Regions from separate parts of the Homo sapiens genome. Here region 2 is linked to region 1. The links come from fine-mapping of genetic effects on gene expression. A gene starts in region 1. The other region holds a variant in brackets. All regions are shown on one strand. Distances are between the middles of the regions.

The links. PIP is the estimated chance that this variant, and not a neighbour inherited with it, causes the effect.
Region 2: its variant is the best candidate, but not a certain one, in a credible set for the expression of THOC5 in lung (TOPMed, PIP 0.86).

What each region holds. Positions count from the first base shown.
Region 1 is chr22:29,550,294-29,555,643 of GRCh38, forward strand. It overlaps THOC5 (THO complex subunit 5), which reads right to left and starts at 3,464. Exons shown (of 20, transcript NM_003678.5): 1 at 3,378-3,464. NIPSNAP1 (nipsnap homolog 1) reads right to left here. Exons shown (of 10, transcript NM_003634.4): 10 at 4,515-5,350. RefSeq lists enhancers at 1,587-2,286, 3,684-4,381, 3,765-3,834 and a silencer at 3,175-3,364.
Region 2 is chr22:29,499,820-29,505,189 of GRCh38, forward strand. No RefSeq gene overlaps it. Among named protein-coding and RNA genes, the nearest start is that of NEFH, 22 kb to the left of the region's middle. The variant C/T (reference allele first, on the strand shown) is at 2,237.

The DNA of each region.
Region 1 (5,350 bases):
CAATGCCATACTGGTGCTCTTAACTACACTTTTATGCCTCCTAGTCCTGCCAGCCTCTCATCTAGTGATGCCATTGACTCCCAGGTTGATCCTAGAATTTAAAGTATAGAACCTACATTTCATGGGGCTCTACAGTCACAAAGCATCCTCCCTTGTTGCCTCACCACAGCCTCCTGAGGTGGGCAGCACTGTCCCCTTTACCCTAATCCCTCTTGCTCTGTCACCCAAGCTGGAGTGCAGTGGCACAATCATCACTCACTGAAGCTTCCACATCCCCGACTTGAGGGAGCCAATAGTTTGTCACGGTAAAAGTCAGAGAGCCCTGAACTGGAATCTCCATTCTACTCTTTCATGGCTATGAGTCCCCGGACGAGTCACTTCACTTTTCTCTGGGTCTGATTCCTCACAAATCAAATGAGAATAACAGTCCCTACCACAGGGGTTGTTGTGGGCTTTAACACAGGAGGCATTCCACTGGGGAAGGTGATGAAGATGACCTGGGACTGTGGCTTCAGATGATGCATAGGTGATCTTAAATAATGCTGAACACCTAAGGAGAAAGTTAATCCCTTTTCAATTCTTATTTTGAAACTTCTGATTGCTTCAAGGAGAACATCTCAGTTCCCTAGTTTGTCTTTAACATCTATGAATGCCAATGTTCCTTTGTAACAAAAGAACTCTATCCCACAGCCTTAAACAACAAAATCTAGCCAGAGTTTGTTAACAATGATCTAGTTGCATTATATTAACTATATTAATTTTTACCTTCTACATAAAACAAGTGAAAGCAGCTTTCCATTTCTGGTGGAGAGATTTCAAGTTTTCTCTCAAAGTAAATTTGAGTTTAAAAAGTGACTTGGCTGGGCGCAGTGGCTCAGGCCTGTAATCCCAGCACTTTGGGAGGCTGAGGCGGGTGGATCACCTGAGGTCAGGAGTTTGAGACCAGCCTGGCCAACATGGTGAAACCCCGTCAGTACCACAAATACAAAAATTAGCCGGGAGTGGAGGCGGGCGCCTGTAATCTCAGCTACTCAGGAGGCTGAGGTAGGAGAATCACTTGAACCCAGGGAGCAGAGGTTGCAATGAGCCGAGATCGCAGCCACTTCACTCCAGCCTGGGCAACAGAGCGAGATTCAGTCTCAACAACAACAAAAAAAGTGACTGGGCCCAACACCATGGCTCACACCTGTAATCCCAACACTTTGGGAAACCAAGGCAAGCAGAGGTGAGAGAATCGCTTGAGCCCAGGCGTTCAAGACCAGAGTGGGCAACAGAGCGAGACCCCATCTTTAGAAAACATTTTAAAATTAGCCTAGTATGGCGGTGCACACCTGTGGTCCCAAGCTACTCTGGAGGCTAGGGTGGGAGGATGGCTTGAGCCCAGAAGTTCCAGGCTGCAGTGAGCTATGATCGCGCCACTGCACTCAGTCTTGACAACAGAGATCCCGTTGCAAAAAAAAAATTTGGACTGGATTAAAAATTTTTAGTAAACCCCTCCCCCTCCCCCCTCCCCCTCTCTCCACGGTCTCCCTCTGATGCCGAGCCGAAGCTGGACTGTACTGCGGCCATCTCGGCTCACTGGAACCTCTCTGCCTGATTCTCCTGCCTCAGCCTGCCGAGTGCCTGCAATTGCAGGCGCGCGCCGCCACGCCTGACTGGTTTTCGTATTTTTTGGTGGAGACGGGGTTTCGCTGTGTTGGCCAGGCTGGTCTCCAGCTCCTGACCGCGAGTGATCGGCCAGCCTCGGCCTCCCGAGGTGCCAGGATTGCAGACGGAGTCTCGTTCACTCAGTGCTCAATGGTGCCCAGGCTGGAGTGCAGTGGCGTGATCTCGGCTCGCTACAACCTCCACCTCCCAGCCGCCTGCCTTGGCCTCCCAAAGTGCCAAGATTGCAGCCTCTGCCCGGCCGCCACCCCGTCTGGGAAGTGAGGAGCGTCTCTGCCCGGCTGCCCATCATCTGGGATGTGAGGAGCCCCTCTGCCCGGCTGCCCAGTCTGGGAAGTGAGGAGCACCTCTTCCCGGACCCCATCCCGTCTAGGAAGTGAGGAGTGTCTCTGCCCGGCCGCCCATCATCTCAGATGTGGGGAGCACCTCTGCCCCGCCGCCCCGTCTGGGATGTGAGGAGCACCTCTGCCCGGCTGCGACCCCGTCTGGGAGGTGAGGAGCGTCTCTGCCCGGCTGCCCCGTCTGAGAGGTGAGGAGCCCCTCCACCCAGCAGCCGCCCCGTCCGGGAGGTGGGGGGCAGCCCCCGCCCGGCCAGCCGCCCCGTCCGGGGGGGAGGTGGGGGCCAGCCCCAGCCCGGCCAGCCGCCCCGTCGGGTCGGGGGTAGGGGGGCGCCTCCGCCTGGCCGCCACCCCGTCCGGGAGGTGGGGGGCGCCTCTGCCCGGCCGCCCCTTCTGGGAGGTGAGGAGCCCCTCTGCCTGGCCGCCACCCCGTCTGGGAGGTGTACCCAACAGCTCATTGAGAACGGGCCATGATGACGATGGCGGTTTTGTCTAGTAGAGAGGGGGGAAATGTGGGGAAAAGATAGAGAAATCGGATTGTTGCTGTGTCTGTGTGGAGAGAGGTGGACAAGGGAGACTCCATTTTGTTCTGTACTGAGAGAAATTCTTCTGCCTTGGGATGCTGTTGGTCTATAGCCTTACCCCCAACCCCGTGCTCTCTGAAACATGTGCTGTGTCCACTCAGGGTTAAATGGATTAAGGGCGGGGCAAGATGTGCTTTGTTAAACAGAAGCTTGAAGGCAGCATGCTCCTTAAGAGTCATCACCACTCCCTAATCTCAAGTACCCAGGGACACAAACACTGCGGAAGGCTGCAGGGTCCTCTGCCTAGGAAAACCAGAGACCTTTGTTCACTTGTTTATCTGCTGACCTTCCCTCCACTATTGTCCTATGACCCTGCCAAATCCCCTCTGCGAGAAACACCCAAGAATTATCAATAAATACTAAAACAAACAAACAAACAAATTTTTAATAAACGGTAGTAGAGGTGGTAAGTTGATCTGGCAAAGCCTACAAAGACCGGACCTGAAAGGCTTAAGTGTGGGAAATCCTGACTTTGGCAACACAGTAGAGTGCCTGGCACACCGAAGAGCACGATATATGTGAGCTGTTACCATCACCACCACCCCCACCCCCATCAGGCTACATTACCACAATCAAGAGGCTCCAACGTGAAGCCTGAGGATGCTGCAGCGAACACTTTTCGGATGAGGTAACAGCGCAGCGCCGAGAGGCCGGGGACCGCGGGTAGTGAGGGAGGAGAAGCCGGGTCAGACCCCAGCCCAGGGGCGCCCTTTGGGCGATCAGCACCTCAGTCCCGGAGCGCCCAGCCCCGCCCCATCTCCCAGCCCCACTGCCCTTGTCCCCTCCTCACCTCACAGCTCCAAGAACCTGGCACCGGGAGTAAGCCACTGCCGGAGGCGGAGCAAAGCTTGCCCGCGCACCATAGAGAACCGGAAGTAAGGAAGGGGCGGCCGACCGGAAGCGAGGCGTAGAGGCCGGAAGCTCAGCGCGGAGGCCCCCGAGGGAGGTGGTGGCGTGGTGAGACTGTAAAAACAAAGACACATGCTTCTCGTTCACTGTGCCCAGGGCCTAAGAGAGTGTCCAGCAGCTAGTGGGCGCTCCACCGAGTAGTTGAATTAATGTTGTGTTATGTCCAAGATAACACGAAAGAACCTGGTAGCGCGGCGGGGAAGATTTCGGCGCTAGAGGATTTGCCTGCATAACCTTACTTCTTAATTATTATTTTTACCATAATATGCCACGCCAGTGAAGGCAACAAGTCAGGGAGGGCATTAACCTCATTTTACACTTGGCTTTTTGAGGAGTGCATCACCAGTTTCTCCATTTTAGGCCTGACTTGCCCAGGACAGAGTCACAACTCTAACGCAGTATTTGAAAGCTTCAGGTATTTCCTACCCCTGGCATGAACTGTACAAACAAGGCCCAGGATTTTTTCGTGTAAATCCTCATCTGGAGCTAGTAACACGTGTCCTGAATCCCTGGTTGTACGGGGCCAGTTCCTTCTCCTTCCCAGGAGCAAGGAGGAAAATACTGGCTCTTTTTTATTTTTATTTTTATTTGAGACAGAGTTTTGCTCTCTCACCCAGGCTGAAGTGCAGTGGCGCAATCCCCGCTCACTGCAAACTCCGACTCCAGGGTTTAAAGGATTCTCCTGCCTCAGCCTCCTAAGTAGCTGGGATTACAGGCATGCACCACCATGCCCAGCTAATTTTTGTATTTTTAGTAGAGACAGGGTTTCACCATGTTGCCCAGGCTGGTCTTGAACTCCTGACCTCACTCAAGTGATCTGCCCACCTCGGACTTCCAAAATGCTGGGATTACAGGCGTGAGCCACTGCACCCAACCAGTACTGACTGTTGAGAATAGCTCAAGAACACAGTACCCTCCAGGAGGGTAGATCTGCCATGTGGGACTAAGCCCACCAGCTCTACTGTGCCCTGCCTCAGGCACCTGCTAAAGTTCCTTGCAGATGAAGAAAAGACACTGATTTATAGTAAATATTTAATTGTTTCCATCAGCAATTCCAGCACAAGTTTTCCTGGATGGTAGGCAGAATCAAGCTACCCAAGGGTTCATGATGAGGTATGGGGGTCACTGAGGAGACCCCCAGAGTCACTGACCCCTCCCGCCACCTCCACACACCAGGTGGCCCTGCAGAATGAGGGTTGGGCTGATAGAATGTCAATTAGGGGAGACAGGATACAGGGTGAGGGAACAGGGTCTAGCTTGTATATTTGCCTGCAGGAAGGAGGGAGGGCAGGAGAGACTCTGCATAGAAGGACTGGAACTACACATTTAAGTTTTCAACCCCAATATGCAGGGGGAAACAGCCAAGCCACTCTCCATCTGTCTAGTATTAGGAACCTCTCTTCAAGTGGTCTTTTGTCATCTCTGTTCTTCTTCCCAATTCTGTATTCCAGATTCCAAATTCTACAATTGAAACCCAAGTTCTGAATTCTAAGTTCTACCTTCCGAGTTCCTGTTACGTGTCTGTCTCCTGCCCCTAAATCTTTCCTGGCTCCCATCCCTTTCCCCAGCCCCTCTGGGCAGAATGTCTGAACCTCCTCCTGACCGTGGTGACGAGGTTTGTTTGTATTTGTTTTTTTGTTTTGGCAGTTCCAGGCTTTTCTCCAGCAGGAGGGACTTGGCTCAGACTGTCCAGCAAGTGGGTGGCCCAGTGGAAACCAGGGAATTCCTGAGGGCCTGGCCTGGCCTCCTCTCTTCCCACCCCACCTCTAGCCACTGGACATACTACCTTTTGTGCAACTAAGCTAAACAGAGGATTTCCAAGGGTGATAACTGGGGACTGGTGGCCTTGAGATG
Region 2 (5,370 bases), 50 kb before region 1:
CAGCTACTCAGGAGGTTGAGGCAGGAGAATCACTTGAAGTCGGGCGGCGGAGGTTGCAGTGAGCCGAGATGGTGCCACTGCACTCCAGCCTGAGCAACAGAGCAAGACTCCATCTTTAAAAAAAAAAGCCTCAATTAAAAAAAAATAGCTTCCATAAATTTAAAAGAATTGAAATCGTACAAAGTACGTTCTCTGATCACACTAGAGTAAAAGTTAATAACTAATCTGGGAAAGTCACAAATATGTGAAAAACAAACACTCCTAAATAACCAATGGGTCAAAGATGAAATCAGAGGGGAAATCAGAATATTTTTAGATGAACGAAAATGAAGATATAACATATGAAAACTTACGGTATGCAAGTAAAACAATGCTTAGAGGGAAATTTAAAGTTGTAAATGTCTACATTTAAAAAGAAGAATGAGGCCAGGCACAGTGGCTGACGCCTGTAATCCCAGCACTTTGGGAGGCCAAGGCTGGAGGATCACTTGAGCCCAGGAGTTCCTGACCAGCTTGGGGAACATAGTGAGATCCCGTCACTACAAAATAAAAATTAAAAAATTAACCAGGCACAGTGGCGTGTACCTGTAGTCCCAGCTACTTGGGAGGCCAAGGCAGGAGGGTTGCCAGAGCCCAGGAGTTCAAGACTGCAGTGAGCTACAATCACACCACTGCACTCCAGCCTGGGTGACAGAGCAAGACCCTGTCTCTAAATAAATAAATAAAGGAAAAGAAGAATGATCTCAAATCAATAACCTAAATTTCTACCTTAAGACATTGAAAAAAGAAGAGCAAAGTAAACCCAAAGAAGGATTAGAGTGGAAATTAATGAAATAGAGAATATAAAAATGACACAGAAAATCAATGAAATTAAAAGTTAGGTCTTGGCCGGACGCAGTGGCTCACACCTATAATCCCAGCACTTTGGGAGGCTGAGGAGGGCGGATCACCTGAGGTCAGGAGTTCGAGACCAGCCTGGCCAACATGGTGAAACTCCATCTCTACTAAAAATACAAAAATTAGCCAGGCATGGTGGCGAGCGCCTGTAATCCCAGCTACTTGGGAGGCTGAGGCAGGAGAATTGTTTGAACCCGGGAGGCGGAGGTTGCAGTGAGCCAAGATTGCACTCCAGCCTGGATGACAAGAGTGAAACTCTGTCTCAAAAAAAAAAAAAAAAAAAGGTCCTAAAAAGACCAACAAAATTCACAAACCTTTAGCTAGACTGACTAAGATAAAAGAAGAAAAGACTCAAATTACTAAAATCAAGAATAAAAGAGAAGGCATTAATGCCAACCTTACAGAAATAAAAGGAATTATAAGGCAATACTGTGAACAACCGTATGTCCACTAATTCAATAATTTAGATTAAATGCATAAATTCCTAGAAATATAAAAACTACTGAAACTGACTCAAGAAAAATGAGAAAATCTGGCCAAGTGGGGTGGCTCACACTTGTAATCCCAGAACTTCGGGAGGCCAAGGCAGGTGGATCACAAGGTCAGGAGATCAAGACCAGCCTGGCCAACACGGTGAAACCCCGTCTCTACTAAAAATACAAAAATTAGCCAGGCATGGTGGCACGTGCCTGTAATCCCAACTACTTGGGAGGCTGAGGCAGAAGAATCGCTTGAACCTAGGAGGCGGAGGTTGCAGTGAGCCAAGGTCACTCCATTACACTCTAGCCTGGACAACAAGAGTGAAACTGTCTCAAAAAAAAAAAAAAAAAATTCAGTCTGGGCGCAGTGGCTCATGCCTGTAATCCCAGCACTTTGGGAGGCCAAGGTGGGCGGATCACAAGGTCAAGACCATCCTGGCCAACATGGGGAAACCCCATCTCTACTAAAAATACAAAAATTAGCTGGGTGTGGTGGCACGCGCCTGTAATCCCAGCTACTCGGGGGGCTGAGGCAGGAGAATCGCTTGAACCCGGGAGACGGAGGTTGCAGTGAGCTGAGTTTGTGCCACTGCACAATCCAGCCTGGCGACAGTGGGAGACTTCATCTCAAAAAAAATAAATAAATAAAATAAATAAATAAATAGCAAGCAAAAATTAGCCAGGCATGGTGGGGCGAGTACTTCTAGTCCCAGTTACTCGGGAGGCTGAAGCAGGAGAATCGCTTGAACCTGGGAGGCAGAGGTTGCAGTGAGCCAAGACTGCACCACTGCACTCCAGCTTGGGCGACAGAGTGAGACTCTGTCTCAAAAAAAAAAAAAGAAAAGAAAAGAAAAGAAAAT[C/T]GGCTGGGCGCAGTGGCTCACGCCTGTAATCCCAGCACTTTGGGAGGCTGAGGCAGGTGGATCATGAGGTCAGGAGATCGAGACCATCCTGGCTAACACGGTGAAACTGTCTCTATTGAAAATACAAAAAATTAGCCGGGCATGGTAGCGGGCGTCTGTAGTCCCAGCTACTCGGGAGGCTGAGGCAGGAGAATGGAGTGAACCCGGGAGGCGGAGCGTGCAGTGAGCCGAGATAGCGCCACTGAGTCCAGCCTGGGTGAAAGAGCGAGAATCCGTCTCAAAAAAAAAAAAAGGAAAGAAAATCAATTAATGTAGTACACTACCTTGCCTTAAAGAATGAAGGGGAGCTGGGCACGATGGCTCACACCTGTATTTCCAGGTACATGGGAGGCTGAGGTGGGAGAATTGCTTGAGCCCTGGAGTTGAAGGCTGCAGTGAGCTTTGATTGCACCACTGCACTCCAGCCTGGGTGACAGAGCAAAACCCTGTATCTAAAACAAAAAACACAAAACCAATGGTGAAAAGCTGAAAGCTTTTCCCCTAAGATCAGGAACAAGACAGAGATGCCCACTTTCACAGTTGTATTCAACACAGTACTGGCAGTCCTAGCCAGAGAAATTAGGCAAGAAAAAGAAAAGGCATCCAAATTGGAAAGGAAGAAATAGAACGATCTCTATTTGCAGATGACATTATCACATATATAGAAAATCCCAAATAATCCACAGTAAACCCTTTTATTTATTTATTTATTTAGAGACCAAGGTCTCACTTTGTCCCCAAGACTGGAGTGCACCTGTGTGATCATAGCTCACTGTAGCTTCCAACTTCTGGGCTCATGTGATCCTCCTGCCTTTGCCTTCTGAGTAGCTGGGACTACAATTATGCGCCACCATGCCTGGCTAATTTTTAAATCTTATTTTTGTATAGACAGGGCTTCACTATATTGCCCAGACTGGCAGAAAAGTTTTTTTTAATTACTAGAGTTAATAAATGAATTCAGTAAAGCAGCAGGGGACAAAGTCAACACACAAAGAACAATTGTATGTCTACTCACCAACAATGAACAATCAGAAAAAGAAATTAAGAAAATAATTCTATTTATAATAGTATCAAAAATAATAAAATACCTAGGGATAAATTTAACCAAGGAGGCAAAAGACTTATACACTAAGTTTCATTTAAATAGGACAGTGAATGTAAAAGTGTGATTAGCACAGGGCCTGACCCAAAATAGATGCTTAATGCCTATTCTCATCAGAGACACTGCTGAACGCCATAGAAAGGACAGAGTCGGCTACACCGACAGGGACAAAGTTCCTTTGGAAGTCTGGCAGCCCTGCTCCTTCCTAGGGATAGAGTTTTGCTTAGCTTTGCGGAGTGATCAGCAAGAACACCCTTAAGTTTATGAAAAGAGTCTGTGGAGTTATTTGCAGAGAAAATAGTAAGGGATAAGCTAGGAAGAAAATAAGGGAGAAACTAGAAGATACCAATAAATCAGGAATGTGGACGGCAGCTTTAAAAAGGCAAGGAACAGGCCTGACATGGTGGGTTCACGCCTGTAATCCTAGCACTTTGGGAGGCCGAGGTGGGAAGATTGCTTGAGGCCAGGAGTTCAAGACTAGCCTGGGCAACATAGCAAGACCTTGTCTCTACAAAAGAAAAAAAAATGTTTTAAAAAAATTGTAAAGGGGAAAAAAAAAAAAGCAAGGAACACAGGCTGAGTCCCAGGTACAAGAGAGCGACAGATGGGCTGCGGTCTGCGATATGCCCCAGAGTATAATCTGCCAAAAGTCCGTGGACAATTCCAGCTGAGGAGGAAGCTTCTAGGTCCTCCCAAGCCAGTCCCTTTCCCCCTAATCTGCCCACCCTTGGCATGAATGGCTAAGTAGCTCACAGGGGAGGGATTGACCTGGGCTTCTCGCTTGTTTTAAAATCCTCCTTAAAGCCAAGGGATTCTTTTGTTCAGTCTGCTTCTCTGGAAAGGGAAAATCTCTTCTGGAGGGTGACAGGCTCTGATATCCCCTGTCTAAGAAGCAAAGCCTCTTCCCAGCCCTCACAAGCCCTCTTTGAAATCTTGTCCCGGCTTCTGGAGATGAGCTTTTGTGCTGAGTCAGTTTGGCTGCCTTCCAGCCAAGAACAGAGAAGTGCAGGCTGCAATGCAGGGGCCATTAAACTATTTTTAGGCTCTATTTCAATCTTATTCAGCACAGGCGGTGAGACACAAGGCCTGAAGGTGGACAGACCAGGGGGATGCCGCCTGGGACAAAGTCCCAGGCAAGTAGGTCAGGGAAAAGACAAGGAGATCTCGCTATGTGGAGAGAAATACTTAGCCAGGCGCGGTGGCTCACGCCTGTAATCCTAGCACTTTGGGAGGCCGAAGCGGGCAGATCACGAGGTCAGGAGATCGAGACCATCCTGGTTAACATGGTGAAACCCCATCTCTACTAAAAATATAAAAAATTAGCATGGTGGTGGGCGCCTGTAATCCCAGCTACTCAGAAGGCTGAGGCAGGAGAATTGCGTGAACCCGGGAGGCTGAGGTTGCAGTGAGCCGAGATCATGCCACTGCACTCCAGCCTGGGCAACAGAGCGAGACTCCGTCTCAAAAAAAAAAAAAAAAAAAAAAAAAAAGCACCCAGATGCTCATGCTGCTACCCAAGTGCAGAAGACAGAAGAAAGACAGCTGCCCAGAGAATTTGGCCCTGTAGAGTCATCAAGAAAAATGAAGAAAGGGAAGGGAAGGGAAGAAAGTACAGTGCCTTCCATAAAGAGACCAGGGCAGCCTATACCCAGGGATCCTTGTTAAAAATACACTTCCTGGCTGGGCGTGGTGGCACGCACCTGTAATCCCAGCACTTTGGGAGGCCAAGGTGGGTGGATCACCCGAGGTCAGGAGTTTGAGACCAGCCTGGCCAACATGGTGAAACCCTGTCTCTACTAAAAATACAAAATTAGCCGCACACTTATAATCCCAGCTCTTGGGAGGCTAAGGCAGGAGAATCACTTAAACCGATGAGGTAGAGGTTGCAGTGAGCTGAGATTGCGCCCTTGCACTCTAGCCTGGGCGACAGAGCAAGGCTCAAAAAATAAAAATAAAAAAATACACTTCCTTGGTGCATCTCAGGTCAATTGAG